4 linked regions of the Homo sapiens genome follow. The protein of the gene in region 2 interacts with the protein of the main gene of each other region in a pairwise test. Each region holds a gene or a part of one and is shown on either strand. Other genes may lie near its edges.

Region 1 (7,254 bases), on a different chromosome or scaffold from region 2:
CCTTATAAGAGACAGAAAAGGACACACATAGGACACCGAGAAGGCAGCCACAGGAAGATGGAGACAGGGGTTGGAGTGACTCATCTACAAGCCAAGGAGCACCAAGGGTTGCTGGCAGCTACAGGAAGCCAGGAGAGACACCATAGATGCTTCCCTCTCAGGGCCTCCACAAGGAAACATCTTTTAATACATTTCACTTCTTTTTTTTTTGAGACATAGTCTCACTCTGTTGCCCAGACTGGAGTGCAGTGGTGCGATCTTGGCTCACTGCAGCCTCCGCCTCCCGGGTTCAAGTAATTATCCTGCCTCAGCCTCCGGAGTAGCTGGGATCACAGGCATGTGCCACCACACCCAGCTAATTTTTGTATTTTTAGTAGAGTCGGGGTTTCACCATGTTGGCCAGATTGGTCTCGAAATCCTGACCTCATGTGATCCACCTGCCTCGGCCTCCCAAAGTGCTGGGATTATAGGCGTGAGCCACCGCGCCCAGACTTTTTCTTTTTTTTTTTTTTTTTTGAGACATAGTCTTGCTCTGTCACCCAGGCTGGAGTGCAGTGGTGCGATCTCAGCTCACTGCAGCCTCCGCCTCCTGGGTGCAAGTGATTCTCCTACCTCAGCCTCCCGAGTAGCTGGGACTATAGGCACCCGCCACCACACCCAGCTAATTTTTGTATTTTCAGTAAAGATGGGGTTTCACCATGTTGGCCAAGCTGGTCTCGAACTCCTGACCTTAAGTGATCCGCCCACCTCGGCCTCTCAAAGTGCTGGAATAACAAGCGTGAGTCACTGTGCCCGGCCAAATTTCACTTCTGTACCTTGTTGCTGGTCTCTTCCTCAGTAGAACAGAGCCTGTGAGGTACATCTCTCATGCTGTCCACTGTCTCCCAGAGCCTCAAGCCATTCCAGAGACACAGTAGGTGCTCAATAAATATTTACTGAGCGAACTCAATGAATGAATGAATCAGCGAAAAAAGATCAGAGAGAGGTCACCCGCCAAGGTCACCCGCACCACTAGTGAACAACCAAGCTATTGTTTGAACCGAGGCTATGCTGCTTCTTTCCCTGCCCAGGCCACATCTTCAAAGGACTTAAGTCATCAGCAAATGGTCACCCAGCGGGCCTCACCCGCCTCTGCCACTTCTACCCTGCCCCTGCCTCTGTTTAAAATCTCCTGCCTGGGAGATATATGCTTATTCACTTATGTTCTTTCTACATTTCTATATATTTATACATTTCTATAATAAAATAGGCTTTTTTTAACTTTTTTTTTTTAAGAATCTTGCTCTGTCACCCAGGCTGGAGTGCAGTGGCGTGATCTTGGCTCACTGCAACCTCCACCTCCCGGGTTCAAGTGATTCTCATGGTTCAAGTGATTCTCATGCCTCAGCTTCCTGAGTAGCTGGGACTACGGGCACCCCCCACCACAACCGACTGATATTTATATATTTAGTACAGACAGTTTCACCGTTTGCCAGACTGGTCTCGAACTCCTGGGCTCAAGTGATCCGCCTACCTCGGCCTCCCAAAGTGCTCAGATCACAGACAAGACATACCAAGCCCAGCCTTAACTTTTAAAAAAATAGAAAAAGAAAAAAACAACCGTGGCTCCAGAGGCCATAGGTGCCCTGTGGAAGAGCTTGGAGGCAGGCAGACGGGGGCTTGATCTCGACTCCACCAATTATGAACTGTGTGATCCTGGGCACAACCCGGGCCCTCTGAGACATTCAGTTTCTCCATGTATGAATGGGCTGATGGCGGCTGTCTCTCCGCACTGCAGGAAGGAGTCAATAAGCCAGACACAGCAAGCGCTCAGCAACAAGGGGCTGTGATGGCCACTGTTGCTGGGGTTGTTATTATTCAAAGCAAAGTGCGGAGCTGCAGAAGGCAGTGGTGGGATGTGGCGAGGGGTGAATGCAGCAGGCCTGGGTTGTCCAAACCCCGCACATTCCAAAGAAAGGACCGGCCCTGGACCAGCTTCTGGGAGGGAACCTCTAAGCCCTTGGAATGTCCTGACTGATAAGAGTGTCTTGGTTTACCTGGGGCCTGGGGCCACACTGGATGCTGTGTGTTAATGTTGTCATCTATGGTCAGGGCCTGGAGCCACTGAGCATCAGTTTGACCTCGGAGGGGCTGGAGTCTCAGGTCAGCCACCATGCATATGTGACTGACCCCCAGTAAAAACCCTGGCCACCCAGGCTTACAGGAGCATCCCTGGTTGGCAGTACTGCTTGCGTGTTGTCACACATCTTGCTGGGAGAATTAAGTGCCGTCCATGACTCCACCGGGAGAGGACAGCTGGACGCTCACGCCTGGTCTGTCTTGGATTCTGCCCCATGTGCCTTTTTCCTTTTTTTTTCTTTTTTTTTTTTGGGATGGAGTCTCACTCTGCTGCCCAGGCTGGAGTGCAGTGGCACAATCTCAGCTCACTGCAACCTCCGCCTCCTGGGTTCAAGTGATTCTCCTTCCTCAGCCTCCTGAGTAGCTGGGATTACAGCTACTGGGATTACAGCGCCACTATGCCCAGCTAATTTTTGTACTTTTAGTAGAGACAGGGTTTCACCATGTTGGCCGGGATGGTCTCGATCTCCTGACCTCGTGATCTGCCAGCCTTGGCCTCCCAAAGTGCTGGGATTACAGGCGTGAGTCACCACGCCCGGCCCTCCTTTTTTTTTTTTTTTTTGAGACAGAATTTTGCTCTGTCACCCAGGCTGGATAGTGCAGTGGCAAAATCTCAGCTCACTGCAACCTCCGCCTCCTGGGTTCAAGCGATCTCCTGCCTCAGCCTCCCAAGTAGCTGGGATTATAGACATGCGCTACCAGGCCCAGGTAATTTTTTTTTTTTTTTTTTGAGATGGAGTTTCACTCTTATTGCCCAGGCTGCAGTGCAATGGTGCGATCTTGGCTCACTGCAACCTCCTCCTCCCAGGTTCAAGCAATTCTCCTGCCTCAGCCTCCCGAGTAGCTGGGATTACAGGCATGCACCATCACACCCAGCTAATTTTGTATTTTTAGTAGAGACGGGGTTTCTCCATGTTGAGGCTGGTCTCGAACTCCTGACCTCAGGTGATCCGCCCGCCTCGGCCTCCCAAAGTGCTGGGATTACAGGCGTGAGCCACAGCACCTGGCCTTTTTTTTTTTTTTTTTTTTTTTTTTTTTGAGATGGAGTCTCACTCTGTCACCCAGGCTGGAGTGCAGTGGCGCGATCTCGGTTCACTGCAAGCTCCGCCACCTGGGTTCAAGCGATTCTCCTGCCTCAGCCTCCTGAGTAGCTGGGATGACAGGCACATGCCACCACACCTGGCTAATTTTTGTATTTTTAGTAGAGACGGGGATTCATCATGTTGGTCAGGCTGGTAATTTCTGTATTTGCAGTAGAGACAGGGTTTCGTCATGCTGGCAAGGCTGGTCTCGAACTCCTGACTTCAGCTGATCCACCTGCTTTGGCCACCCAAAGTGCTAGGATTACAGGCGTGAGTCACCGCGCCCGGCAGTACTACCATCTATTAATAGATCCTCCCACAGCAGTTTCTCAGCCCAGACCTCTCCCTTCACCTCCAGATCCACATATTCAAGTCTATCTTTCTTTTTTTTTTTTTTTTTTTTTCTGAGACGGAGTCTCACTCTATCGCCCAGCTGGAGTGCGGTGGCGCAATCTTGGCTCACTGCAAGCTCCGCCTCCCGGGTTCACGTCATTCTCCTGCCTCAGCCTCCCGAGTAGCTGGGACTACAGGCGCCCGCCACCACGCCCGGCTAATTTTTTTTTGTATTTTTAGTAGAGACAGGGTTTCACCGTGTTAGACAGGATGGTCTCGATCTCCTGACCTCATGCTCCGCCTGCCTTGTCCTCCCAAAGTGCTGGGATTACAGGCATGAGCCACCACGCCCGGCCTCAAGTCCATCTTTCTACCTGCCTTTCTAAAAGGCAGCTCAATGGATAAAGAAAATATGGTCTATATACACCATGGAATACTACTCAGCCATAAAAAGGAACAAAATAATGTCTCTTGCAGTAATTGGATGGAGTTGGAAGGCCATTATTCTAAGTCAAGTAACTCAGGAATGGAAAACCAAATAGCCGTATTCTCACTTTATAAGTGGAAGCTAAGTAAGCTATGAGGGTGCGAAGATACACAGAGTGATATAATGGAATTTGGGGACTCAGGGAGGGGGGTTGGGATGGGGGTGAGGGACTACATATTGGGTATAGTGTACACTGCTCTAGTGATGGGCACACCAAAATCTCAGAATGCACCACTACAGAATTCATCCATGTAACCAAAAAGCACATGTACCCCAAAAACTACTGAAATAAAAAATGTTTTAATTAAAAAAGAATGGGCCAGGCACGGTGGCTCACGTCTGTAATCCCAACACTTTGGGAGGCCAAGGCAGGTAGATCACGAGGTCGGGAGTTTAAGACCAGCCTGAGCAACATGGTGAAACCCCATCTCTACTAAAAATACAAAAATTAGCCAGGCGTACTGACACACGCCTGTAATCCTGGCTATTCGGGGGACTGAGGCACAAGAATCACTTCAACCCGGAAGACAGAGGTTGCAGTGAGCCAAGATCGCACCATTGCACTCTAGCCTGGGCAGCAGAGTGAGACTCTGTCTCAGAAAAAAAAAAAAATATATTAGAATAAATAAATTCATAAATAAATGGTAGCTCAAATTCTTAAGTCCAAAACTGAGCTCTCAGTCCTCCCTGCAGATCTTTCTCCCCATCCCACCACGGTCTCCCCCATCCCAGTAAATGGCAGCTCCATCCTCCAGGAGGCTCAGGCCAGAACTGCTGGAGACGCACCCCTACTCCTCTCTCTTCCTCCCCAGAACACCCCCACAGCCAGCACATCAGCAAAACGCTGATGCCTTCCAACATAACCAGCATCTGACCGTTTTTCACCATTTCCATCGCTATTACCCTTGTCGGAGCTTCCATTATCTCTCCCCTAGACAAATATAATAGACTCTTTCATAGATGTCCCTGCCTCTGATAGTCTGTTCCCTACACTGCAGCCAGAGAAATCCTGTTAACACCTAAATCCGCTGCTCACATCTCTCCTCAGCTCAGAGCCCTCCCATGGCTCCCGGCTCACTCAGAGTCAAAGCAAGGTCCTCGGCCTGGCACAGTGGCTCACGCCTGTAATCCCAACACTTTGGGAGGCCAAGGCGGGTGGATCACTTGAGGTCAGGAATTCAAGACCACCCTGGCCAACATGGTGAAACCCAGTCTCTACAAAAAGTACAAAAATTAGCAGGGGGAGGTCGTGGACGCCTGTGGTCCCAGCTACTCAGGAGGCTGAGGGAGGAGAATCGCTTGAACTGGGGAGGCGGAGGTTTGCTGTGAGCTGAGATCGCACCACTGCACTCCAGCCTGGGCAACAGAACAAAAACTCCATCTGAGAAACAAAAACAAACAAACAAAAAAACAAAGCAAGGTCCTCACAGTGGCCCACAAGGCCCAGTACGATCTGTCCCCATCCCCTCTGCCCTCATATCCCACCCTCCCCGCACATTCACTCTCCTGCAGCCACAGTGGCCTCCTCACTGTTCAATACTCCAGGCCTCCACTCACCTCAGGGCCTTTGCACTTGCTCTTCCATCTGCCAAGAACATCCTCCCCCAGGCATTCATCAGGCTCGTTCCCCCTCTTCACTAAGCCTTTAGCCCACATGTCACCTCCTTGGGGAGCCCTTCCCCACCCACCCCGTCTGAAACAGGCCCCATCTCACCCCTCTTTGTTTTTTTTTTTTTTTTGAGACAGAGTTTCCTCAGTCGCCCAGGCTGGAGTGCAGTGGCGCAATCTTGGCTCACTGCAAGCTCCGCCTCCCGGGTTCATGCCATTCTCCTGCCTCAGCCTCCCGAGTAGCTGGAACTACAGTCGCCCCCCACCACGCCCAGCTAATTTTTTTGTATTTTTAGTAGAGACGAGGTTTCACCGTGTTAGCCAGGATGGTCTCGATCTCCTGACCTTGTGATCCACCCGCCTCAGCCTCCCAAAGTGCTGGGATTACAGGCGTGAGCCACCGCGCCCGACCCATCTCATCCCTCTTTATCTCACTACTCCGCCTCATTGTTCATGGCACTTATCACCACCAGGCATCATATTTTATATTTATTTGATTCCTTGTCTCCCCACTTGGAATGTTGGCTCCATGAGGGCGTCACTTCACCTGTCATGTTCACTATTGAATCCCCAGCACTTAAAATAAGGGCCAGGCTCCAAGAAGGTGTCAGGGAATGTTTGCTAAATGAGCGGATGCTCGAACAAGCACCACAGGGCTGGAAGGGCCCCGTCCTCACCTGCAGCCGGGCCAGGATTTGGTGGTAGTGGAACAGGGTGCAGAAGTCCACGTGGGCCGAGAACGCCTCCAAAGCCGCCTTCTCTGCCGGACTCGAGTGGAATTCCTGTTACCTCAGGAAGCAAAACTTCTCTGTAGGCCTTTTCCCCTTCCCCGAGGGAAAGAATTCTTTCCCTGGCTGCCTAACTACACAATCAGAGCTCTGGACTTTGAAGTTTTGTTCTGGGGCTGGGCGCAGTGTCTCGCACCTGTAATCCCAGCACTTTGGGAGGCCGAGGCAGTGGATCACTTGAAGTCAGGAGTTCAAGACCAGCGTGGCCAACATGGTGAAATCCTGTCTCTACTAAAAATACAAAAATTAGCCGGGCGTGATGGCATGCACCTGTAGTCCCAGCTACTCAGGAGGCTGAAGCTGGAGAATTGCTTGAACCAGGGAGGCGGAGGCTGCAGTGAGTCGAGATCGTGCCACTGCCCTCCAGACTAGACAACATCAAGACTCTGTCTCAAAAAAAAAAAAAAAAAAAGTTTTGTTTTGGTTGGGTGGGGGCTGACCAATTTTACTGAAACTGAGGCAGCCAAATATAGTGAAAAACTATACTGGGCTTAAAAAGCTGGAGGTTCAAGTTTTTGCTTTGACATTTCCTAGCCAATACACACACACACAATTCCAGGAACGGTTTGACAGTGTAATATCATCCTCCAGAAGTAGATGGAATTATTATTATTATTATGTTGAGACAGAGTCTCGTTCTGTCACCCAGGCTGGAGCTCAGTTGTGCAATCTCAGCTCACTGCATCTTCAACCTCCTGGGATGAAGCGATCCTCCCACCTCAGCCTCCTGAGTAGCTAAGACTACAGGTGCCCACCACCATGCCTGGCGAATTTTTTTCAATTTTTTGTAAAGGTGGAGTCTCACTATATTGCCCAGGCTGGTCTGAACTCCTGTGCT
Region 2 (8,027 bases):
AGATAAAATTCTGGAGATGGATGGTGGCCATGCATTGTGAATGTACTTAATGACATGTACTTAGAGCATACTTAGAAATGGTTAAAACGGTAAATTTTATGTTCTAGGTATTGTACCACAATAAAAATAACTTTTAAAAATGAAGGTGAAAAAAAATCCCGTTTATTCTTTATTTTTATTTTTATTTTTTATTTTTTACTTTTTTTGTTTGAGACAGAGTCTTGCTCTGTCACCAGGCTGGAGTGCAGTGGCGCAATCTTGGCTCACTGCAACCTCTGCCTCTCGGGTTCAAGTGATTCTCCTTCCTCAGCCTCCCGAGTAGCTAGGACTACAGGCACGCGCCACCACACACAGCTAATTTTTCTATTTTTAGTAGAGATGGGGTTTCATCATGTTGGCCAAGATGGTCTCGATCTCTTGATCTTGTGATCCACCCGCCTCGGCCTCCCAAAGTGCTGGGATTACAGGCGTGAGCCACCGCACCTGGCCCCATTTATTCTTATGTGTTTCCACTGAAGACCCATAGGTATCATCCCCACTCCACTCCTCCAGCTCTTCTGGGACAACTAGAAACCGTTGAGATTTGGGGGTAAAGGGGCATTACTTGGAGGCTAATCCTCACCTTCTTGGTCCCTCACATATCCAGTTGTCTGATACACTCTCTACCCTATACCCAGCAGGACACAGTGTCCTTTGAGAGGGGAAATGAAATAGAGAAAAATATATATGAGAAAGTATCATTTTCTGGCAGAAAAATGAGTACATTTTAATTAGAAACACTGCCTCGGCCCGGCGCGGTGGCTCATGCCGGTAATCCCAGCCAGCACTTTGGGAGGCCTAGGTCGGCGGATCACCTGAGGTCAGCAGTTTGAGAACAGCTTGGCTAACATGGCGATACCCCGTCTCTACTAAAAATACAAAAATTAGCTGTGCGTGGTGGCACACACCTGTAGTCCCGGCTACTCGGGAAGCTGAAGCAGGAGAATCGCTTGAACTCGGGAGGCGGAGGTAGCAGTGAGCCAAGATCCTGCCATTGCACTCCAGCCTGGGCGACAAGAGTGAAACTCCATCTCAAAAAAAAAAAAAAAAAAAAAAGCTGCCTCAGAAGAGCATTCTTGGGTGGGACAGGCCCTACACCTAAAAGGACCCGCTCACATAGCTCATCCTCTCTTGACCTCTTTCCCCTGCTCTCTCTGCCCCATCTCTGCCCACTCTTTCTGGGACCCGGATTTGACACGGTTGCTGCCACCCCAATAGCAAGTCTCTTAGGACATTCCTGTGCTCCTCACTTTCCTGGCTGAGGGTCAGAACTTATCAAAGGGGTCTTTTTGAGGAAGTTAGGGGAAATGCAAAGGAAAACAAAAGGAAACTATGAAAGTCTAGAAACAACTAAGTTTACTAACAAAATGACTTTCTTCTCTCGATATAGCTAAAGTCAAGCCATCAATGGGCTTAGCATGTTTTGATTTTAATAAGGCTTAATAAGTCTGCATTTTGAGAAGGCTGTGGACCCCTCTGGCAGTCTGGTGAAGCCATGGACCCTTTCTCTGAATAATATGTTTAAATGCACAAAATAAAATACGCAGATTTACAAAGGAAACCCATTATATTAAAATTCAGTTATCAAAATATTACCCACAATATAATATAGTAACATATGTGCTTCTTGATGTATGCATTAAATAACCAGATCTAACAGCAGTGCCAATAACTACTGGAATTTTGAAGTAGTCGTGAACATAAATGAAATTTCGAGATGCCTGCAACAACTATAATATGAAATGCAAATCTCTGTGATGTCTGTTACTGACACTCACAGGTACTCCTAACACTTCGTGGTTTATTGCCTACATTCATCATTGAAGGAAATACTACATTTCAGTTAGAGGTTAGTGGAAAGAAAGAGGCAGTTTTATTCATCCCAATTCAAAGTAACCCCCATCCACCCTGAATTTTTGGTCTATAGGACCCTGGTTGAGAGCCTCTGCTCTAAGGGTCATATAGCCTCCCATGGGTTGGAACCAGCTGTCTCCTACCTGTCTCATCCTTCAGGATGACATTATTTCTCCTCATCCAGTTTTCAAGCTTGCACCTGTAATTGACCACCCCCAAATCCCTGGTTTCTGGCAGGGAAAATCTTGGAGCTGTCAGCCCGTTTGCCGTTTGCACTCCAGCCTGGGCGACAAGAGTGAAACTTCATCTCAACAACAACAAAAAAAAGCTGCCTCAGAAGAGCCTTGGGTGGGAGAGGCCCAACATTGTTGACTTCTGTGCTGTGAGTCCACAGAACAACTGGCTCTTTCTCAAAATTCTGTCTGAGATGTCACTCAGGCAGCCCTCAGATTTTCCAGAATTGTCTCACCATAACCATAGACTAGAAAATCACCCTACACCTACCTAGTAACACCAACTCTGTAAGCCACCACCACTTCTGCCCTGTCCCTGAATATGACTCTTTTCAGCTAGTTCATAGGGGACAGCTCCTGAGAAGACTGGAGTGATTTTTTTTTTTTTTTCATCTTGAGACGGAGTCTTGCTCTGTCACCCAGGCTGGAGTGCAGTGGCACGATCTTGGCTCACTGCAAGCTCCACCTCCCGGGTTCAAGTGATTCTCCTGTCTCAGCCTCCCAAGTAGCTGGGATTACCAGTGCATGCCACCATGCCTGGCTAATTTTTGTATTTTTTTTTTTTTCAGTAGAGACGAGATTTCACAATGTTGGCCAGGCTGGTCTCAAACTCCTGACCTCAGGTGATCCACCTGCCTCGGCCTCCCAAAGTGCTGGGATTATAGGCCTGAGCCACCGTGCCTGGCCTGGAGTAATCTTTAAACCAGAACAGCTGCAGCCTCACTCCTGGCCTTTGTGCCAGCCAGATCCTTCCCAGAGGGTGGAGATCACCCAGATGATCTCTTTGGAACCCTCCTCATCTGGAGATTGGCCACTCTTTTGGTTTGTTCCCCATGTGCTCTCCAGCCCTTGGGGTTCACTCACCTAAAAATATATAGACTGGGATCCATTGCAAAACAAAGAAGGTTTGGAGGCCCTCCTGGAGATTCAGTCGGGAGAAGAAAGCCATGGTTATGGTGCTGTTCTGTTGTGGCAAGAAGCCTAACCAGAAGGTCAAAACTTCTTAAGCTGAGTTGATTATAGATGCTTTGCTATAATCTCTTACTGTGGAGTAAGATTAGCTGCTGGGGTTTTGTCAGGCTTGACCAAACTTTTCCTCCACTGCCCCGCCCCAACTTCCTACCCACACATCAGGTTGCAGATCAGGCAATATAATTGATCTCCCCAGTAGTATCCTTTCTCCACGTGTGCCCAATTGTAATGAAGCAGAAATGGCCCTGGGGCGGCTCTAGCTGTGGGGGAGGGGCACTCTTGATAAATCAGCGCAGGAAGAGAGTATCTTGGGCCTCAAATAGGACCTCCGAAAAGCACCCCACTACCTTTCCCTGCTTAAGAAAAGGGACTTGGCAGCCACACTTGTTCCTGCCCTAGTGGTTACCCTTTGTCTCCTCTTGTCTTCTGCTGAGTCACCTAGCCCACTGGGGCTGTTTTTCTGCACCGGATATCTGTTAATAGACTCTTCAGATCCCTCTTTGTGCCTCTAGTCCCAAGGGACCTGCCTCAGTGGCCAGATACCTTATCATAGAGCGGGAGAAACATTGCACAGAAGGAAGACCTGGCTCCCAGTCCCAGCTCTGCCATGCTCTTCCTGTGACACCTTTGGAAAATGTTACATCTCTCTAGAGCTCAGTTTGAGCATTCATTGCTAGAATGTAATATAGGTTAGGGGCATAGACTTTAGAGCCAGATAGCTGGGGTTCACATCTCAGCTCTGTCACTTACAAGGTGGTGAACCTCTATGCCCCAGTTTCTCCATCTGTAAAAGTGGGACTATAATAGTACCTACTTCTTAGAGTAGTTCTGAGGATTAGATAAGTGAATGAATATAAAGTGCTTAGCACACAGCCTGGCACCGTTTCCTGTCATTACTACTCACTGAGTTCAAGTAACACATATTGAACAAGTAACATATGTTTCAGGCTGAGGCTTGCTTCTGTGTAATAGCCTTTGGAAAACTGAAGACTGTTCCCAGGTCTCAGACCGTTTTTTTTCTGTTTGTTTGTTTCGTTTGTTTTTTTTTTTCCAGACAGAGTCTCACTGTGTCGCCCAGGCTGGAGTGCAGTGGCGTGATCTCGGATCACTGCAACCTCTGCCTTCTGGGTTCAAGTGATTCTCCTGCCTCATCCTCCTGCGTAGCTGGGACTACTGGCGTGCGCCACCACGTCCAGCTAGTTTTTGTATTTTTAGTAGTGAGAGAGTTTCACCATGTTGGATATATTTTTTCTGTCACTATCTATTGAGTGACTGCTGTTTGCCAGGCACTGTGTTTAGGTGCTGAGGATTCAGTAGGGAAGAAGACAGACATGATTCTTGCCTTCTTTGAGTCTACAGTCTAGTGGAGGAGACAGACATTAAAACAAAAAAAAAATCACAAAAATGTTAGGCTGGGTGCGGTGGCTCATGCCTGTAATCCTGGCACTTTGGGAGGCTGAAGCGGGAGGGTTACTTGAGCCCAGAAGCTCCAGACCGGCCTGGGTAACATAACGAGATGCCATCTCTACAAAATAAGTAAATAAATAAATAATAAAATAAAATTAAGATAAAATGTCTGTACACTTGAAGTTGCAATGTGTCCTACAGGAAAAGCCCAGTACTCCCAGCAGAAGGCCTTGAATATAGAAGGTAGTCAAAAACATCTGTTAAACATAACTGAAGGGGTTGCTGGGAAAATGAGATACAAAAATGGTATCAAGGGTTCTATAAGTGCAAGGGGGCATTGGTCCCTTTTCCAGGGAGATTGTTGGAACTCTGTCATCTCCCCACCCCCACTCTGCTTTGGGCTTCCCGCATTAGACTGACCAATGTGACTCTTCAGAGCTGAGCTTGGGGAACTTTTCTGGTATGTCAGGGTGTGCTTTCACTCCCCCGTGTGCACTAGATGGTCATCTGACATGCGACACCTTCCTCTTCCTCCTCTTTCTTTTCTTCCCCTTGGGCTAGCTGGGGTTCTCCAGCTGCTTCTTGGGGCTGCTTGACCACATAGAAGGTGAGATGTATCAGAGCGTATCTGCTCAGAATTTGCACGGGAGGAGGGAGGGAGGTAAGAGAGGCAGGCTTGGCTCTGCTCAGGGAAAGCAGAGATATGGAGGGGCTTAGAGTGCCCAGGCCAGACGAGATCCACAGTATCAAGAGCTCCAACGCCCCTTACAGATCAGGTCTCCGCTCCCCTCCACTTTCAGATGGGTGAATGGAGGAGATCTGGAAAGGGCTCAAGGTGATGCAGGAACCAGAGGCAGACAGGGCCAGACAGTTTTCTACCTCTGTCTCCCTAACATCTGGGTCAGGGTCTGGTGCAGAGCAGGCACTCAAGTAAATGTCTGTTGAACCTGTGAGGGAGACCAGGTCTCTTGATGCCTCAGGCAAGATAGACTGACCCAGATTGGCCACCCTTTGCTCCCAAAGACAGAGCACGCTGGCCCAGCTGGAGCTCTCTTGAGCCAAATGGACAAGTATAACATAAACATCAGTGAACAAAGAAAGAGCAAGAAGAAGATAATTAGGCTAGCAGATAAACCCTGAACATCCAGCACTCGTGATTTCCCAGTTACAATTCATCAACCAACAAGCAGAAGCTTGGCAGCCTCAGAGTAAGCAATAAAGAAGGAAGGGTTGCCAAGGAGCACAAAGGGCCTGCCAATTTCATTTGTAGACATTGAAGGTTGACGTGATTCCCACCCTCAAGAAACTCACAGTCCAGTGTTGGAAGTAGGTGTAAAAGCAGACACCTGCATGGGGTGCTGTGGGTTGCACAGACGAGAGAAGCACCTGCCTGCCCTGGGAGGTGAGGGAGGGGTCTGTGGAAGAGGGCCTGCTGCAGTGAGGAGAAATGGATCAGGCGAGAGAGGCCTGGACGGGCAGTCCAAGAGACGGCCGTGAGCTCATCAAACGGGGCTGTGATAAGCTGGACCCCAAAGAAACTTCAAAGGAGCAACAGAAAAACAAAGAAAGGAGAAAAGTGGAAGGAAACAGATCAAGGGGACCGGGACCAGAGAGCTCAGAAAGGGTGGTGGAAGTGAAGGGGTAGCTCTGATTCAAAGCTCTGATTCAGAAAGGGTAGCTCTGATTCAAAGGTTCACCCTCAGCCTTTGGAATGACTCATTTCCAGACAGCTTTGGATAGCTGAGGTTTTGCCATAATTTGTTTTCTTCTGATCTTCTCCCTCTGTCATACCCTTATATGGTTAGGTATTACAATTTCAGCTCAATTGAAAACATTAGGCCCAGGCATGGTGGCTCACGCCTGTAATCCCAGCACTTTGGGAGGCTGAGGTGGGCGCATCACTTGAGTCCAGGAGTTTGAGACCAGCCTGGCCAACATGGTGAAACCCTGTGTCTACTAAAAATACAAAAATTAGCTGAGCATGGTGGTGCAGACCTGTAGTCCCAGCTACTCACTTTGGAGGCTGAGGTGGAAGAATCTCTAGAGCCCAGAAGGTCGAGACTGCAGTGAGCCAAGAATGTACCACTGCACTCCAGCCTGGATGACAGAGCAAGACCCTGTCTTAAACAACAACAATGGAGAACCTATTTAATGCCAAGCACCAGGCTAGGTATTCTAGAAGGAGTGTACCTAATCCCTTCATTCACCAAATTTTTCTTGAGGCCCTACTTACTCTAAGTCTGGTATTGTTCTAGGTTTACAATTGCATGTGTGTTGGGTTATGGGGCAGGGGGCACGGACAGGGAATGAAAGAAGTGCATATGTCATCAATACAAGGATTGGGGCCATCAGAGAATTCCAAAGGAGACAGAGACGAACACTAGCAGCTGTGTGACCTTGGACCAGACACTTCCTCTCTTTGAGTCTTGGTTTCTTCATCTGGTAAAAAGGATGCATCCTATTTCTTTGCTGTGAGATGTAGTGGCAGTGTTTGAAAAGCTTCTCGTGCAGTGTCTGCCATCCAGGAGCTGTTCACTAGCGCTCCTATTCAGCTGTGGGGAGGGAGTATTTGCAATGTGCTCTAACAGGTTGAGAAGTGGGGAGGATGACATTTCCTACAGTGGCCCAGCATACACAAAAGACCAGAGGTTTGCTTTGGCACACGGGGTGGTTTAGTTTGATAGGAGTCTCAGGTTGGTGGAGGGGAGTAGAAGAAGAGAAGGCTGGAAAGCGATAAGTGGAGCTGATTTCCTCACAAATCTCTTTACGTATCTGGAGGCCTAGATACGTAAAGAGATTTATGTTTCACTGGATTCTAGGTCTAGAATCCAGTGAAAGTAGACCCAGGAGTGGTGGTGGGACGAGGGGCCTGTGGAGATGGAGGGTAGGGCAGAACAGGGGACGTTTAAAATCCCCTGGAAGCAGTAGTGACTGGATCACTTCTCATGGCAGGCAAGGCCCCAGGGAACAGCGGCCTCCAGTGTCCTGGTTCAGGGTCTTGGGGGAGGGGTGGCCAACCCTCCCAGTTTGCCTGGGATGAGGAGTTTCCCAGGATGCTGGACTTCCAGGGCTAAAACTGGTATAATCTTGGGCAAACTGGAACAGTCGGTCCCCCTAGTTTGGGCCCTTGTCACTGTCTCCTGGACTACAGCAGGTTGTTGCCTGCTTGCCTCCCTTCCTTTGGTCTCCATTCTGCAGTTAGAGGGGCTGCTGTCAAACACAGCTCTTACTGTCTCTCTGCCTTGTTTCAAACACTCCAAAGGCTCCATTGCCTCTGGGATCCAATTCAGACCCCAGGACCTGGACCCAGAGCCCTAGAAAGGGAAACACTGGTTTCCACCCTCCTTGAAAGTCTCATTTCCCATCACTTTCACACCACACCAGATACAGCCTAGTTCCCCAAACCGGAAGTGTCCTTTCCTATTCTGAGCCTTTGCCCATAGCAGCATCCTATCAACCTGACTGGCTCCTACCCACCCTTCAAGATTCAGTGAAAATGTCATTCCCTGCTCTCTCCTCTGG
Region 3 (7,447 bases), on a different chromosome or scaffold from region 2:
TAGATTGTTTCTTTTTGGTAAATGGGTATTAACAACATGCCCCTTGTTTCAATAGATATTCAGAACATCCTGTATATAATACTTTAGAGTTTACAAAGCTCTGTCACATTTATTATCTCAGCTTTCTAATTTCTCCTTGTTACTGATTATCATAATTTATGTTCAAGGAGATTAAAGGGAGAGGCATCTTTTAACTAATGTTTCAGTTATCCTTTGCTGTCCCCAGTACTAGCTGTTCCTTAACAGTAGGACAAATTCCCATGCCATCTGCCCTACTGGCAGGGCACTGGTTGGTGTTTATGTATGCCCTCTTCCAAGCCCCTAGAAGTGTGGAATACTGTGTTGTGCCCAACTGATCTCTCAGGTAATCAATCAGTCCAACCCATGGAGATGGGGTAGGCAGGGAGGAGGAGGTGAGAGACCTGGATTCAAGTTCTGTTATGGTTCACTGACAGGACACAGGTTCCCTCTGGTCTTGTTTTCTAGATTGTAAAATGAGTAGAAAGCTCACCTATGTCCTCACCTCTAATGACATGCGGTAACACAGATAACTCATCCCGTTTTCTCCTTCATACCCAGGGACCTTAAGTCATTGCAAGGTAGAGGTTAAAAGCACCAGCTTTGGAATTACACACACACACACACACACACACACACACACACACACACACACACCCCCCTGCTGGACGTGAATCATAGTGTTATCATTGATGAGCAGAATGGTTTTGGCCCATTAAATAACCTGTCTTTGAGCATCTGTATATGTAAGGACACTTGTAAGATGCCCAGTACAAATGAGATGCTCAATGAATGACAGTTTGTATTATTCCTTGTTAACCCCATATGATATTTCTCTTTTCTTGAACTCTGCCTGAGTTACAGGACAGATATCTACAGCTATAGGAAGGGCCTGTGAACACTGGCATATTCAAGGTAGGGCACTCTAAGGGGGAGTGAGGGGAACCATGACCAAATCCCCTTGGCCCACACTGGGCATCCTGATACATCATTTGAAGCACAGAATTTTAAATTAGGATGTTTCCTTAGGAATCAACTAGTCTAGCCTCTGTATTTTACAGATGAGCAAACTGATGCCCAAAGAGGTCATACAAGTTAGAAAAAAAGAACCAGAACTAGAGCCCCTTATCTCAAATCCAGGTTTCTCTCCCTGAACCTTCCAGCCTCAGCTTTTCAAGGTCATGTACAAATATTCACAGAACATAACCACATTTTTACATTTATGTCTGTTTTCTCAAGGGAGGTGTGATCTAAACTCTGAAGGCCAGAGTTCCAATTTTAGCACTGTCACTTACCAGCAATGTGACTGTGGGCACATTATTTAGCTTTTCTGTGTCAGAGCTTCCTCATCTTTAAAAGGGAGGTAATAATATCTACCTCATAGGGTTGCTATAAAGATTAAAAGTGTTAATGCATCTAAAGCACATAGAATATTGCCTAGCACAAACTCCCAATCAACTTTCTTTCCCCCCAGCTAAATCATAAGTTGTCTACATTCCCAGTGTTTTGCAAGTAGCAACTCTCAGTGGATGTTTGAAGTTTGAAAGAAAAACTGGGGTTGCAGCTGGGAGTGATACATCAATGGTTTTAGCCAGATGAGAGTTGTCAATATCAATCGATCTAATCCTAGGGAGACTCAGAATCCTTTTAATATTCTACTGGAATTCCTTGTAGGCTTGAAGCACGGGGACCAAGACCACAGGATTTTGTCAGCCTTAAGAGACAAATTTTCTCTCTAAATCACAGACTGTGACAAGTCAGATCATAACACCTGGATCCCACATTGTCCTGTTACTGTACAAAGCAGAGTTCAGGAGAAACGCTACCCAAGGAACAGCATCATAGACTGCTCAGCAGAGAGTCCTTGGTGGGAGAATTACTTTGCTTTCCTTCTTCACCAAAAATGTTACAAGTAAACACTGGAAATGGTGCCTGGCACACTGTATGTGCTCAAAACTATGCGGGAGGTAAGGGCTGGAGTGGGAAATTGAGGCAAGGAGCAGAAAAGACATTCAGCCATGAACTTAACCTGGCTAGGACGGTCTCTGTCAACTTGATGGGGGTGAAGCACAAGGGGTTCTGTGCTGGGAGAGAATCCTGTTCTAGACCTCTGTGATCTTGGGCAAGTCTCCTAATTTCTATGGACACCAGCTTCTTCATTTTTAAAAAGGAGCTGAACTACCTGCATGTCCTCCAGCTCTAATATTCTGCCTCCCTAAGTCCTTTAAAGCATTGCAAATTTCCTCTTGGAAAAGTCATCTTAGAAAGTAAAACATTCCCCTGGACATTTCTTTCAAGCCCAGCAAGCTATTAATTATGGTCATAAAGTTAATTAGTTCCCCGGACTTCCAGTTCTACAGGTCTGAAAAACAGGATTACTGGGTCCAGGAAAGGCCCAGTTCTGGTGAAACCAAGGCTCGGCTGGGAGCTGAGTCATTCTTCTCGTAGCAACTTTTTCTTACTCCTATCAGATTGCGAACTGCTAGTCACACCACCTACAGGTGGTATCCCAAACCTGATGCCCTTGAAAGAGTGGTAGCAAATCCCAATAGCTCTAAATCTGAAACCATTGCATTAAAGATGTTGTTACGATTATTAAAAGCATTATCAACTAGGATCACATGCGGCTACGTGTCTCGGTGGGCGACAGCTAAAGAAACTTGCAAGCCCGTTGTTCCACACCAATTTCAGCGCGATGGAGACCTCTCCAGTCTCTCCACATCTTCTCTTTGCCGGGCGGAGGGAGGAGGCTCTCTCCATCCCCACGACTGCCGTTCTGGGGGGCAAGTCGAGACGAGCACGCCTGGCTGCTACCTCCGCACCCGCGTCCCACAAGCTTGCTTTCGGGGATCTCACACATCAACATGGAATCTCTCCAGAGGCCAGAGGAGAATGAGGGGCACTCGCGAGGACTAAGGTAGAAAGCCAGGATCCCCGGGCTGCGGGCGAGCGCGTCTCCCATGGCTCCCCAGGCTCAGCCGCTGCCTCTTCTGGGCAAATGCAAAGCAAGCAACGCACCCACCCCCCGCCCTCCCCGGAGGCCGACCTGGAAAAGGAAGAGCGGGAAGGTGTCTACAACTGTTCCTCAGCCACAGACAGTCCCAGGATCATGGCCCAGAGAGAGAGAGAGAAAGAGAGAAAGGGACAGGATTAACTCACTGCTGCTCCAGATCATCGGCCATAGTAAACAAGCCTTGCCAGGTCCTGGCGAGCCCGCCCAGCGCCTGACGCCAGCACCAGCTGACCCGGGAGGCCGCGGGGAGCAAGGGGGCGTGGCCGCGCAGGGGGCAGGGCTCGCGGCGGGCCGGCGGTCGGCGGTGGGACCCTCAAAACTCTGCAACTTGGTTTCAGCTAGTGGGGCCCTTGCTGTGTTTTCAATCACTGGCATGTGTCCCGGCAGAGATGTCTCTGACGGTCTCAGAATGGGACAGTAATCCTGGTCACACATTTGGGGGAGTCCTTGCAGGAGCTCCGACAGCCCTCCCTTCTCTCATAACTAAAAAGTGGTAGAACTACGCCTGCACGCTCGCACCCACTCTTTGGGCTTCCCATTGTAACTGTGTCCTCCTGAAATCGACCCTTGTTAATGTTCCTTCTAGTAAGAGGCTTAAATGTTTGTGGAGACAACGCCATTGGTTGAATGCTCCTACAAAGGGCCTGGATGCCAGATTTCGAAACTAAAATACAGGACACCTAGTTAAATGTAAATTCCAGATTTAAATAAAGCAAATACTTTTTTAGAATAAGTATGGGCCATGCAGTATTTGGGACATAAGTAGGCATCCTGTATTTTCTCTGGCAAACCTAAACCTATATGACATCTGCCAAAATGGGCATATCTCTGCTCTGATGTTGACTCTGACCCCAACCTATTTTCCAGGGAAAATATAGCTCAACTCCAGGTCACCCTCAGTTTGGAGGATAACAGTTGAAGGACTCACCAATAAGGCTAGGTCTCCTTTCGGTATGTAAATGCGGGGACAGGGAGATAAGGCTGGCTTGGCCCAGAGGTCCTGAGTGCACTTCAGTTTGCTCAGCAGAGGAGCTAAATCTTGAGGCTGGCTGCTGAATTTGCTTGTACCGGTAAACAGGGCCTGACCTCCCTGGAACTGTCAGATTTCAGATCATCCCCTTAGTTAAAACCAGACTAGGGGTGGGGCGCGGTGGCTCACGCCTGTAATCCCTGCACCTTGGGAGGCCAAAGTGGGTGGATCACTTGCAGTCAGTAGTTCGAGACCAGTCTGGCCAACATGGTGAAACCCCATCTCTTACTAAAAATACAAAAAATTAGCCAGGTGTGGTAGCAGGCACCTGTAATCCTAGCTACTGGGGAGGCTGCGGCAGGGAGAATTGCTTGAACCCAGGAGGCGGAGGTTGCAGTGAGCCAAAATTGTGACACTGCACTCCAGCCTGAGAGACAGAGTGAGACTCCATCTCAAAAACCAAAAACAAACAAGCAAACAAACAAAAAAAACCAGACTGGGGAGTGGTGGAGGATGGGTGAGAGAATGCTGGTGCACAGGGGTTTATCAAAGCATTTTTCTTTAGCCTTCCTGCAGGACCCAGATGATTCTGAGATTTCTTCTTTGTAGCAACACAGTGTTAAGCTGATCATTATAAAGACTTAACGTTTAGGAGAACCAGCATTTATAGAGTTTAGGGGCTTAGGAATTTGCCAGATGTGGTACAAAGTAGTTCAACTAGCAGAGGACTTGTCTCTTTCATGCAACCTTTTTTTTTTTGAGACTGATTCTCACTGTCACCTAAGCTGGAATGCAGTGTCATGATCATGGCTCACTGCAGCCTTGAACTCCTGGGCTCAAGGGGTCCTCTTGCCTCAGTCTTCTAAGTAGCTAGGACTACATGTGCCCAGCTAATTTTTTTTTTAGTTTTTGTAAAGATGGGGTCTTGTTATTTTGCCCAGGCTGGTCTCAAACTCCTTGGCTCAAGCTATCTTTCTGCCTTGGGGTCTCAAAGTGCTGGGATTACAGGGGTGAGCCAACAAACTTGGCTTCGTTCAATCTTTCAACAAAGCACAGTGGTTCTAAACTTCAGTATGCATAGAATCATCTGGTGGATTTATTAGAAATTCAGATTTCTGGGCTGGGCATGGTGGCTCACGCCTGTAATCCCATCACTTTGGGAGGCCGAGGCAGATGGATCACGAGGTCAAGAGTTTGAGACCAGCCTGGCCAACATGGTGAAACCCCATCTCTACTAAGAATACAAAAATTAGCCAGGTGTGGTGGCGCGTGCCTGTAATCCCAGCTACTCAGGAGGCTGAGGCAGGAGAATTGCTTGAACACGGGAGGAGGAGGTTGCAGTGAGTTGAGATCGTGCCATTGCACTCCAGCCTGGGGGACAAAGCAAGACTCCATCTTGGAAAAAAAAATTCAGATTTCTAGCACCTACCCTCTGAGATTCAGATTCAGCTGGTTTGGCTTGATGCTAGAAAGCCGCATTTTTAGGAAGCACCGCAGATACTGGTGCTCCACGAGACTCACTGGTTGGTTAGAAGTATAGATTCTGGAGTCATGAAGCCTGGTTAAGTTCAGTATTTGCTTTGCCACTTATCCACTGTAAATCCTTGGCCAAGTTATTTAGCATCTCTTAATTTCTTCCTCTGGCTTGTATCTTGTGAGAACTAACCAAGATAATTCAAATAAACATGTGGTACACTTATTTGTGATACGAATATTACTTATTTTTGTTGTTGCTGTTATTCAATGCCAAGAATTATGTTGAGCACTAAAAATACAATTATCCAGCCTGGGCATCATAGCAAGACTCTATCTCTACAAAAATGAAAAAAATTAGCTGGGCATGGCAATGCACACCAAAAGTAACAGCTACTCCGAAGGGTGAGGCAGGAGGATCACTTGAGTCTAGGAGTCAGAGGTTAGAGTGAGCTATAATCCCACCACTGCACTCCAGCCTAGGTGAGAGTCAGACTCTGTCTCTAAAAAAAGAAAAAATAAATAAAAGCAATTATCAAAAGGAAATAAACAACCTGCTCTAGTGGTAAACACAGACTTTCTATCTGTTGCTACCCTAGGCTGTTCTTGGCTTTGCAGAGCTGATAACTTTGTATTCAGAGCTCAGCTCAAACTTCCCCTCATCTGAGGCATTTCTTGACCACAGGATCTAAAGAGAGCCCCCCATCACTCTGTCACATTACCCTATTTTTATTTTCTTCATAACACATAACATTATCTGAAATTATCTTGCATTGTTTTTACTCATTTATTATCAGTTTCCTTCCACTAGAGAATAAATTTCCTGGGGGACCCTCTCTGTCTTGTTATCTGCTGTGCTCCCAACACCTAGAACAAAGTGTGGCAGAGTAGGCACTCAATATTTGTTGGGTAAATGAAGAAAAGTCTAGTGAAGAGGCAGAAGCATAAACAATTACCTATGAAACAATATACTAAGTGTCAAAGGCTTTGGGAGCTACATTCTAAATTGTACCAAATAGAAAATTCCATACTGTATCACTCCCAGACAGGACAATAAAATCTCCCACTTTTCTGAAAACCTGTAAGTTGTGAGATTTTTTTAGGCAAGGACGACTACACATGAACTGGTATTAGATCTCTCTAGACCATTTCTCAGGAGTGCAGAGAAGTGTTTGTATTTTGTTTTCATGTGCGAAATCAGCTTTAAAGTAGAGGTTTCTTGGAAGTAGGAAACTTGAATGGATGGAAAATGCCTTTAATAACCAAAGTTACCACAGTTTTTAAGGTATCCCCAGTGCTGATGTATCTCAGGATCAGGACGGATCTGCTAGAATTACACAGAGTAAAGAGGACTCTCGGAGCCTACTCTAAGGCAGGCCTCTGGGGAGAAAATGTAAGTTATTTTTTTTCTCCTTATCATCAGGACAAAGCACACCATGAGCAAGTATGAGACTCCAACAAGTGTGGATGGAAATTAATTTGACAAATCTGAAACCATCTTTGCAAAATTATGACTGAGACAGTGAAAGAGATCTAACTTAACTGACTCCATCTCGCTTCTAACCAGGTTGTCCTTGTTCATTCCTGGGCATAGGCTGAACTAACTTTGGGAGAAACTTAGTTTATAGTTTGTGGTTTGTGACAGATAACAGCCCTTTCCCGGGGCTGACTTCCTTGTTGCCTGGAGACTAGATTGCCTTTGTAACACTAACATTAGCCATAAGATTGGAAATTATGGTTTGGGAGTCATGCAGCTGGAGGCTACAAGATTCTGACCCTCCCTAGACTGCTCCTAAGATCAGTGCTTGAGATATTTGGTGACCCCTGCACTTGATGGATCAGCTGGTACCACTCAGATTGATGAACTGGCTCATCTGATCTTGCAGCGCCCCCCACCCAGGAACTCAGGGCAAGAAGACAGCTTGGACTCCTTATTATTTCTTCCCCGACCATCAGGACTCGTGGCTCACTGG
Region 4 (7,288 bases), on a different chromosome or scaffold from region 2:
ACATTTCCATCATTACAGAATGTTCTAACAGACAGGGTTGCTCTAGAGCTCATTACTTAAAGGGTAGTCTGCTGATTGGCAGTAGGAACACAGGCATAACTAGGAGCTAGTTAGAAATAGAGATCTCAGGTTCTACCTCAGACCTACAGAGTCAGAATCTACAATTCAACATGATCCACAGAAGTCTGCATGCAAATTAGAGTCCAAGAAGCCCTAAAGTCATGTGATTTTTTTTTTTTTTTTGAGAAGTCACTACAGCTGATTGATGTTCAGGCCCTTCCCTTGACCCAGCTACCACTTTCCCTTATCATCCTGTGTCCTTCTTATTATCTCCCTGCCACATTTGCTTTCTCAATATGTTTTATTACAGCATTTCTTTATAAACATTTACAGGCTGGGCATGGTGGCTTACGCCTATAATCCCAACACTCTGGGAGGTCAGGAGTTTGAGACCGGCCTGGGCAACACAGTGAGACCTGTCTCTACCAAAACCAAAAAATATTTACAAAGCAGCCAGGCCATTGAAGCCCTCATAAAACATCCCCTTCTCCATGCCCTCACTCTCATTCTGGTTTGTAAGTGCTTGCTTGGCAGGCTTGTGATAAAGGCCCAGGCCCCTGTGATGGTTGTGGTATTGCTCAGCACTTTGCCTGGGGAACTACTATTGGAGGGCTGGAAATTAAAGCCAACCTGAAACCCAGTGGGGCACCAGTCATCAACCAAGTGTATGGCACACTTGGTCTTGGTGGGACAATGGCAGCATTCAGTCTTTAGGCTACAACCCTGGGGCAGAACATGCAGAGCAAGCTCTGTACTTGCTTTGGTCAGTGTCATATCTGGCCATCTGATTGGAGAGTACAAAGTAGGTACTGGCGATCTCCAAATGTAAGCACTGCTCAACCAGGTAATTGGTTAGTAGGTCACAAAAAGGAAGTTAATTTGGAGGTAGGGGACCAAGCTGGCCTTAAACTCTGAGAGGTCTGCTTTCAGGGTACCATCAAAGTTCAGGGAGGTAGTGATGGAGGAAGTCTGGTCCAAGCAGTGGTTAAAGTATGTGGGGCCCTGGGGGTATAGGTTGCAATGACATGTGTTGGTCCATTGTCTCCCAAGAAGACACAGTCCAAGGGTTCCAGGGTGGCACGGTGGTCAGGATAGAGTTGTAGGGTTCCACCATTGCTGGCAACACCCAGGGGATAGGTGGATGGCCAATTCTAGCTTGGATTTCTTGCCATTGTTGAAGATGACTCCATCAGCAGCAAGGTGAAGCTAGAACAGAGCTACTCCCAGAGTTGAGGAAGATCATGAAGTCCTGTAGTCCTATGCACTGCTTGTCAGTTTCTGCATAAACTCTAGTATTGGATCAATGGTCTCTTTCTCTCTTTTTTTCTTTCTTTTCTTTTTTTGTGACTGTGCAGCAGGCACAGGCATCTTTGAGAGCAGACTCCAGGTCCATAAAGACCAAAGCGCTACAGGAGTTGCTGCAAAATCCTAAGGTTTCATTACTGGACTCAGTACCACTGGGCTTGCACTGTGTTCCAGGCGGTAGGGTCTTCAACAGACACTCTGAGAGGTGGGATTGTAGGGCATCAGTTTCTGCAGACACACTACAAGTGTCTGGCAACACTATTGTGGAGGCTAAAGTAACTCCATCTCAGATGCTAATCCACAATGTTGATTTCTGAGTAACCCCAGTTTTGGGAAGGCCTCCAAGTTTTCTACTTTATCTATTGTTCCTTGTATAAGAGCATGTGACAGGCTGTTCTTACATTGTTATAAAGAAATACAGCTGGGCGCGGTGGCTCATGCCTGTGATCCCAGCACTTTGGGAGGCAGTGGAGGGAGGATCATTTGAGGTCACGAGTTCAAGACCAGCCTGGCCAACATGGTGAAACCCCATCTCTACTAAAAATACAAAAAATTAGCTGGGCGTGGTGGCGGGTGCCTGGAATCCCAGCTACTCAGGAGGCTGAGGCAGGAGAATTGCTTGAACCTGGGAGGTGCAGGTCATAGAGAGCCAAGATCATGCCACTGCACTCCAGCCAGGGCAACAGAGTGAAACTCCGTCTTAGAAAAAAAAAAAAAAAGAATTACCTGGGACTGGGTAATTTATAAAGAAAGGTTAATTGGCTCATGGTTCTGCAGGCTATACAGGTGCTGGTATCAGCTTGGCTTCTGGAAAGGCCACAGGGAGCATTTACTCACGGCAGAGGGCAAAGCGGGAGCAGGCATCTTACATGACTAGAGCAGGAGCAAGAGAGTGAGGGGTAGGTGCCATACACTTTTAAACAACCAGATCTCACAAGAACTTACTATTGCAAGGACAGCATTAAGGGGATAGTGCCAAATCATTCATGAGAAATTCACCCCCAGAATCTAATCACCACCCATCAAACCCCACCTCTAACACTGGAGATCACAATTCAACATGAGATTTAGAGAGGACAACACCCAAATTGTATCAGAGCACATACTTACCTACCTGCCCTTAGGTCAAAACAACCTTAGTCTGGGAGGGTAACAGCACAGAGATTTACCTGTCTTGCTGCTGTCCAAGACCATGCTTCTGTCCGTAAGTTCCCTAATAAATCACCTTTTGCTGACAAGCTGGATTTGTCTCCTTCATTCTTTAGTTTCTCAGCTCCTTCTGTATTTGGAGGTCACTTTGAATATACGGCCCTTTCATGAAACAACCAGGAATTCCTGTAAAAATGTTTTTTATATGTTCTGGTCTTCCCTAAAATATTTTATGAATTAGATCAAACACAATAAAAAATGTATTAGTTATTACTATGCCTAAGAGATTATAAGTGGCTTTCCCCCCTCTAAATTACAGAAGACACCATTCCTATCCTAGAGGACTTTCTCGTGTAGTTGGAAAGATATTCGATAATGTTTATTTAAAAGCTGTAACAATTACACAAGGCTGAGAACCTGAGAGCTAGATGGGTGATAAAGACAGGTTTACAGTGGGGCTCAGAGGAGAGAAAAAGAGGGAGGAGAGTCAGGGAAGGAGAACAATGAACTGAGTCTAAAATAAAGGTTAATATATTCGCGTAGGATCTATCAAAACAGGAGCAGTATTTCAACCCATTGTTTTCAAGCACCTAGAACAAAGTGAGCCCATAGTAGACACACACCAAACATAAATGGATGAGTAGTAGTGGGTGGCAGAATTCCAAAAGCAGGTTGCACCTGATTGCTAAAAGGCTTGAAAACAGGTCAAGAAATACTGCTATTTAGGTTAGTCATTTCACCTCAATAACTCGAAGTACCTAAACATAGACTTTTTTTTTTTTTTTTGAGACGGAGTTTCGTTCTTGTTGCCCAGGCTGGAGTGCAATGGTGCGATCTCGGCTCACCGCAACCTCCGCCTCCCGAGTTCAAGCGATTCTCCTACCTCAGGCTCCCGAGTAGCTGGAATTACAGGTATGCGCCACCGCGCCCGGCTAATTTTGTATTTTTAATAGAGACGGGGTTTCTTCAGCTCAGGCTGGTCTCCAACTCCCGACCTCAGAAAATCCGCCCGCCTTGGCCGCCCAAAGTGCTGGGATTACAGGCCTGAGCCACCGCGCCCGGCCAACACCGACTCTTTTCACCCTCCCAGGTATCTAGAGAGTCGAGTGGGAGGGAAATTGCTGGCTCTGGCCACTACAGTAACATCAGCACCTAGAGCAGTGCTCAACTGACTGAAGGCTCCTGTGAGTCGCCCTCTCCCCCTGGCCCCCCAACCCGCGGGGAAAGGCTGGCGGGACGCCACACAGCACCTCGATTACGCCATTTCATTTGCCACTGCACCATCTATCGGACACTAGCTAGGCTCTTCCAGGACCGGACGCACCTCCGTCCCCAAGGTGCCACCTGACAGCCAACACCGACGGGGTGATGCATGAATACAGTCATTATTCAAATTAGCTAAAACACCTAACTCATTCGGGTGAGTCTCGCCAGTCCCTCTGGGCTGACTGTCCCGCCCCGCGCTTACACCCGGGAGCGTCGGGCGGGAGAACTAGTGCATGCTGGCTGGGGATGGCGGACGCAAAGCCGGAGGCAAGGCCGCGCACGCGCAAACGCGGGCGCGCCGCCGGGCCGTGCTAGTGCGCGGAAGACGCATGCGCTGGCGGCCTGCGCCGCCTTAAGTGCCGCGCCAGCCCGGGGCGGCCCAGTCGGCCTGTCAGCCGGCTTCGAGATAAGTCCCGGCGCTTGCGCGGCGGCGGCTATGGCGGCGGAGGAGGAGGAGGTGGACTCTGCCGACACCGGAGAGAGGTAAGCGCAGCCGGCAGGGGGCTTCGTGTGTCTCCGGCGCGCACCCTCCGCGCGGGCCGGGTTAGGGCCCAGCGGGCAGCACCAAGGAGTCGCCGCCCGCCTGGCGACGACGGGCGGCTTCCTCGACCCTCCCCGGCATGAGTCCGCGCGGCGCCCAGAGGCGTCCCGGCGCCGCTCTGCCTGGGAGAGGCTCCCCTCAGCGTCGGGGCCCCGAGGTGTCTGAGCCGGACTCCGGCCGCGCCGGGAGGCCGCCTTGACCCCGCGCGGAGGGTCCGCCCCGTTGTTGTATAAGCCACCCCGCGGGCCGGCGACGGAGCTGGCCGCGGCGGCCGCACCGGCTCGGGCTCTGCCAAGGGACCCGGCCTGCCCCAATGCCGCCGGCGGGCGGTGCCCGGTCGACCCTGCACCTGACTGCGAGGCGCGGGAAATGACCGGGTCTGTCAGCCTCCCATCGCGGCTTCCGTCTACAGGTACTACCTGTGCTCTGTCCAGCCTCAGCCACTGGACGATCCTTCCCGTAGCCGTAGGAAGGGGCGGCGCTTCCTTGGAGGGGATATTAGAGGCCCGAATTCGCCCGGGAAGCGGCGGGAGGGCGGGGGTGCCGGGAAGGAGGGAGGGGAGAAGGAGTGAGGGAAGTGGGTGTATGGCTGTGAGTTTCAGATACTTCATAGAAAGAAAGTTAGCCCTTAAGATAGAGATACACGTTCAAATGTCATAATTCATCTTTCGGATGAAGGTCTTTGGCTTGCAAGCTCCACTGTCCCTTATTTGTTTGCGCTTCTGGGATTATTCTGGCTTTACTGGCGAAGTGTGTGTTGCATGTGCCTTAGAAGAACACACATAATGTATAGGAAACTGTGGAAGTTGGAGGGCAGATGTCTAATGTGAAACTTTTTTATATACAGGTATAGTGAGTTTATTCTTTTCTACACCTAAATGACTTCTTGCACTTGTTAGTAGAAGAATAGTAGTTAATGAGTGGAATAATTAAATTGTTATGGAGGTTATTGCCTTGTTTCTCAAGGCCTGTCGTTTGTATTGGAAAGTAAACTTCCCCCATATATATTTAATTTTTTGACGTCGGTTCTACTTCAGACGTCTGGAGAAATTTGCCTAGGAAACATAACCTAAATGATAGAATATGGAGTACCATGAAGACAGGGATATTTGGAAAGATGTCATGGGGAAAAATTGTGAAATATTAGAAAGGAAGTTATTCTCTTGAGTTTTGTTTATTTGTTGAGGTTTGTTGATGAACTTCCTCGTTGCACTGAGGTGAAATGTTGAATGTCATGTGGACGCAAGTAGGAACGTAATTGGTAGGTTGTGTTCTCATCTTGTTTGTCACAACATTTTTGACTCTTGACACTACTTTCAGGTGGACTATTTGGTTTTGATGTAGTGGGGCCTTGGAGTCCAGGACACAATCGTGAAAGGGTTTTATGGCTTGGAGTGATGGTTGGAGGTCATTGGAGGTAGATGATTAAAAAATCCTTAGCAGCTGATCAGCCATAGTTTCTAGACAGAAGTGGGCTTCGCTGGTATTCTTGGCAATATGCTTTAGCAGTGTCCAGTGACTATCCCCAGAAGTGATCCTGTTAAATCCAAGGTTGCCCCTGTGTGCTGGGTATTATTGTTCCCATTTTGCAGTTGAAACTGCCACTGTAAAGGCTGCTAACAGCCTGCCAGCAAGTAGCAGGGCTGGATTGGAACCCTTTGTGGAACCCTTTGAGGTGTCTGGATTTAATCTAAGGTGCTTACCCTGTATCCCTGCTGCCTGTCACTGGAATTGGGACTCATGTGGGATGTTTGGCTCTTGTTTGAATACAGTTCCCTACCCTTAAGACATTTGAGGTTTAGATAGGGAGATAACATTAACAAAGGAAAGTTATAAAATGGTCATCTGATGGCTTTTTGGAGAATATGATTCTTGTCCTTTGCTTTGTGGCACTTAGTGAAGACAGGCATACTGGGATCCATTTTGCTTTCAACATCCAACCCCTTTCAGTTGCAATACAGTTGAGAAAGCTAAATGTAATGAGAGTAGAGTAGACTTCTGTGAATTGCTTTAAGTTGTCCTAGAGAATGATTTAGTGTCAATTGAGTTGAGAGAAAGCTGTCACAGAATTGCTCAGTTGCAGGGTAGACCATAAAAGAGGTGATTTGCAGTTGTGTGCTGGAGTTGATTTGTACCAGCAAGCCATTGCTAAATTTTCAGGAATTTTGCCAACGGTTGGCAGCTTGAAATTGGCCATGGTGGGAGTATTTACACCACGGAAATCATCAAATGCTATAAATAAGGTATAAATAAGGGATTTTTCTCTCCCCTCCCTGCTTCAGTTTGTTTGCCAGCTCCCCACTGGGTTTACATTAGACTGTGAATGTAGGTCTTTGCCTTGGAGATAGGAGAGTGGATTTCTCTATCTAATCTTTTTAAAAACTGGCAAGATATGTGCCTTTCTCTCTGCTGCCTTCTCTCCTTCCCAAACCTTTGCCACCTGATATCTTAAAAATCACAAAACTTTTCACTGCCACATCCCAATGGCCTTCTAGTTTTTTTCAGTACTTCTTCTTGGGTCCTTTTTGGTGTTTGTTACTGTAATGATAGCTACTACTTTTTGAAACTCTTATTAGACATTCTAGGTCTTAATGACATTTTGCCTTTTATCTTACCTTACCTGACCAACAATAACTTTTATTAGTTTCTCCTCTTTTTTTTTTTTTTGCATTCTCTAAATGTAGTCATTTTCCAAGATTCTGTCATCATCCTTGTTTTTATTTTTCATCTTGTTTACTCAAACGTGAACTGTCTTGTCTGTGGAGATGACTCAGATCTCATTTTCTTTCTGGAGCCCTCTTCTGTACTCTGGTAATGTTTCTAATTGTCAGATGTTTGTGCCTGATTCCTCAAATTTAACATGTCCAGACCATGATCTTATTTTTACCTTCCTGCTCCTAAACTAAACGATATAAAAAGCTTAGTTCTGGCCGGGCGCCGTGGTTCACGCCTGTAATCCTAGCACTT

The links.
Region 1: the proteins of DGAT2L6 (region 2) and TMEM143 interact in binary tests that used the Homo sapiens proteins (3 or more experiments, as listed by UniProt).
Region 3: the proteins of DGAT2L6 (region 2) and ABHD4 interact in binary tests that used the Homo sapiens proteins (3 or more experiments, as listed by UniProt).
Region 4: the proteins of DGAT2L6 (region 2) and ABHD5 interact in binary tests that used the Homo sapiens proteins (3 or more experiments, as listed by UniProt).

The regions. Positions count from the first base shown.
Region 1 is NC_000019.10:48,353,767-48,361,020, forward strand, and holds part of TMEM143 (transmembrane protein 143), read right to left. Parts: intron 6,411-7,254; coding exon 6,306-6,410; intron 1-6,305.
Region 2 is NC_000023.11:70,172,631-70,180,657, reverse strand, and holds the start of DGAT2L6 (diacylglycerol O-acyltransferase 2-like protein 6), read right to left. Parts: upstream 3,176-8,027; 5' UTR 3,076-3,175; coding exon 2,991-3,075; intron 1-2,990. UniProt on the Homo sapiens protein: Diglyceride acyltransferase that uses fatty acyl-CoA as substrate. Particularly active with oleate as a substrate. Has no wax synthase activity to produce wax esters.
Region 3 is NC_000014.9:22,594,060-22,601,506, reverse strand, and holds the start of ABHD4 ((Lyso)-N-acylphosphatidylethanolamine lipase), read right to left. Parts: upstream 3,208-7,447; 5' UTR 3,201-3,207; coding exon 3,178-3,200; exon of another isoform or gene 3,065-3,177; intron 1-3,064. UniProt on the Homo sapiens protein: Lysophospholipase selective for N-acyl phosphatidylethanolamine (NAPE).
Region 4 is NC_000003.12:43,686,777-43,694,064, forward strand, and holds the start of ABHD5 (1-acylglycerol-3-phosphate O-acyltransferase ABHD5), read left to right. Parts: upstream 1-4,161; 5' UTR 4,162-4,216; coding exon 4,217-4,263; intron 4,264-4,321; exon of another isoform or gene 4,322-4,733; intron 4,734-4,740; exon of another isoform or gene 4,741-4,818; intron 4,819-7,288. UniProt on the Homo sapiens protein: Coenzyme A-dependent lysophosphatidic acid acyltransferase that catalyzes the transfer of an acyl group on a lysophosphatidic acid.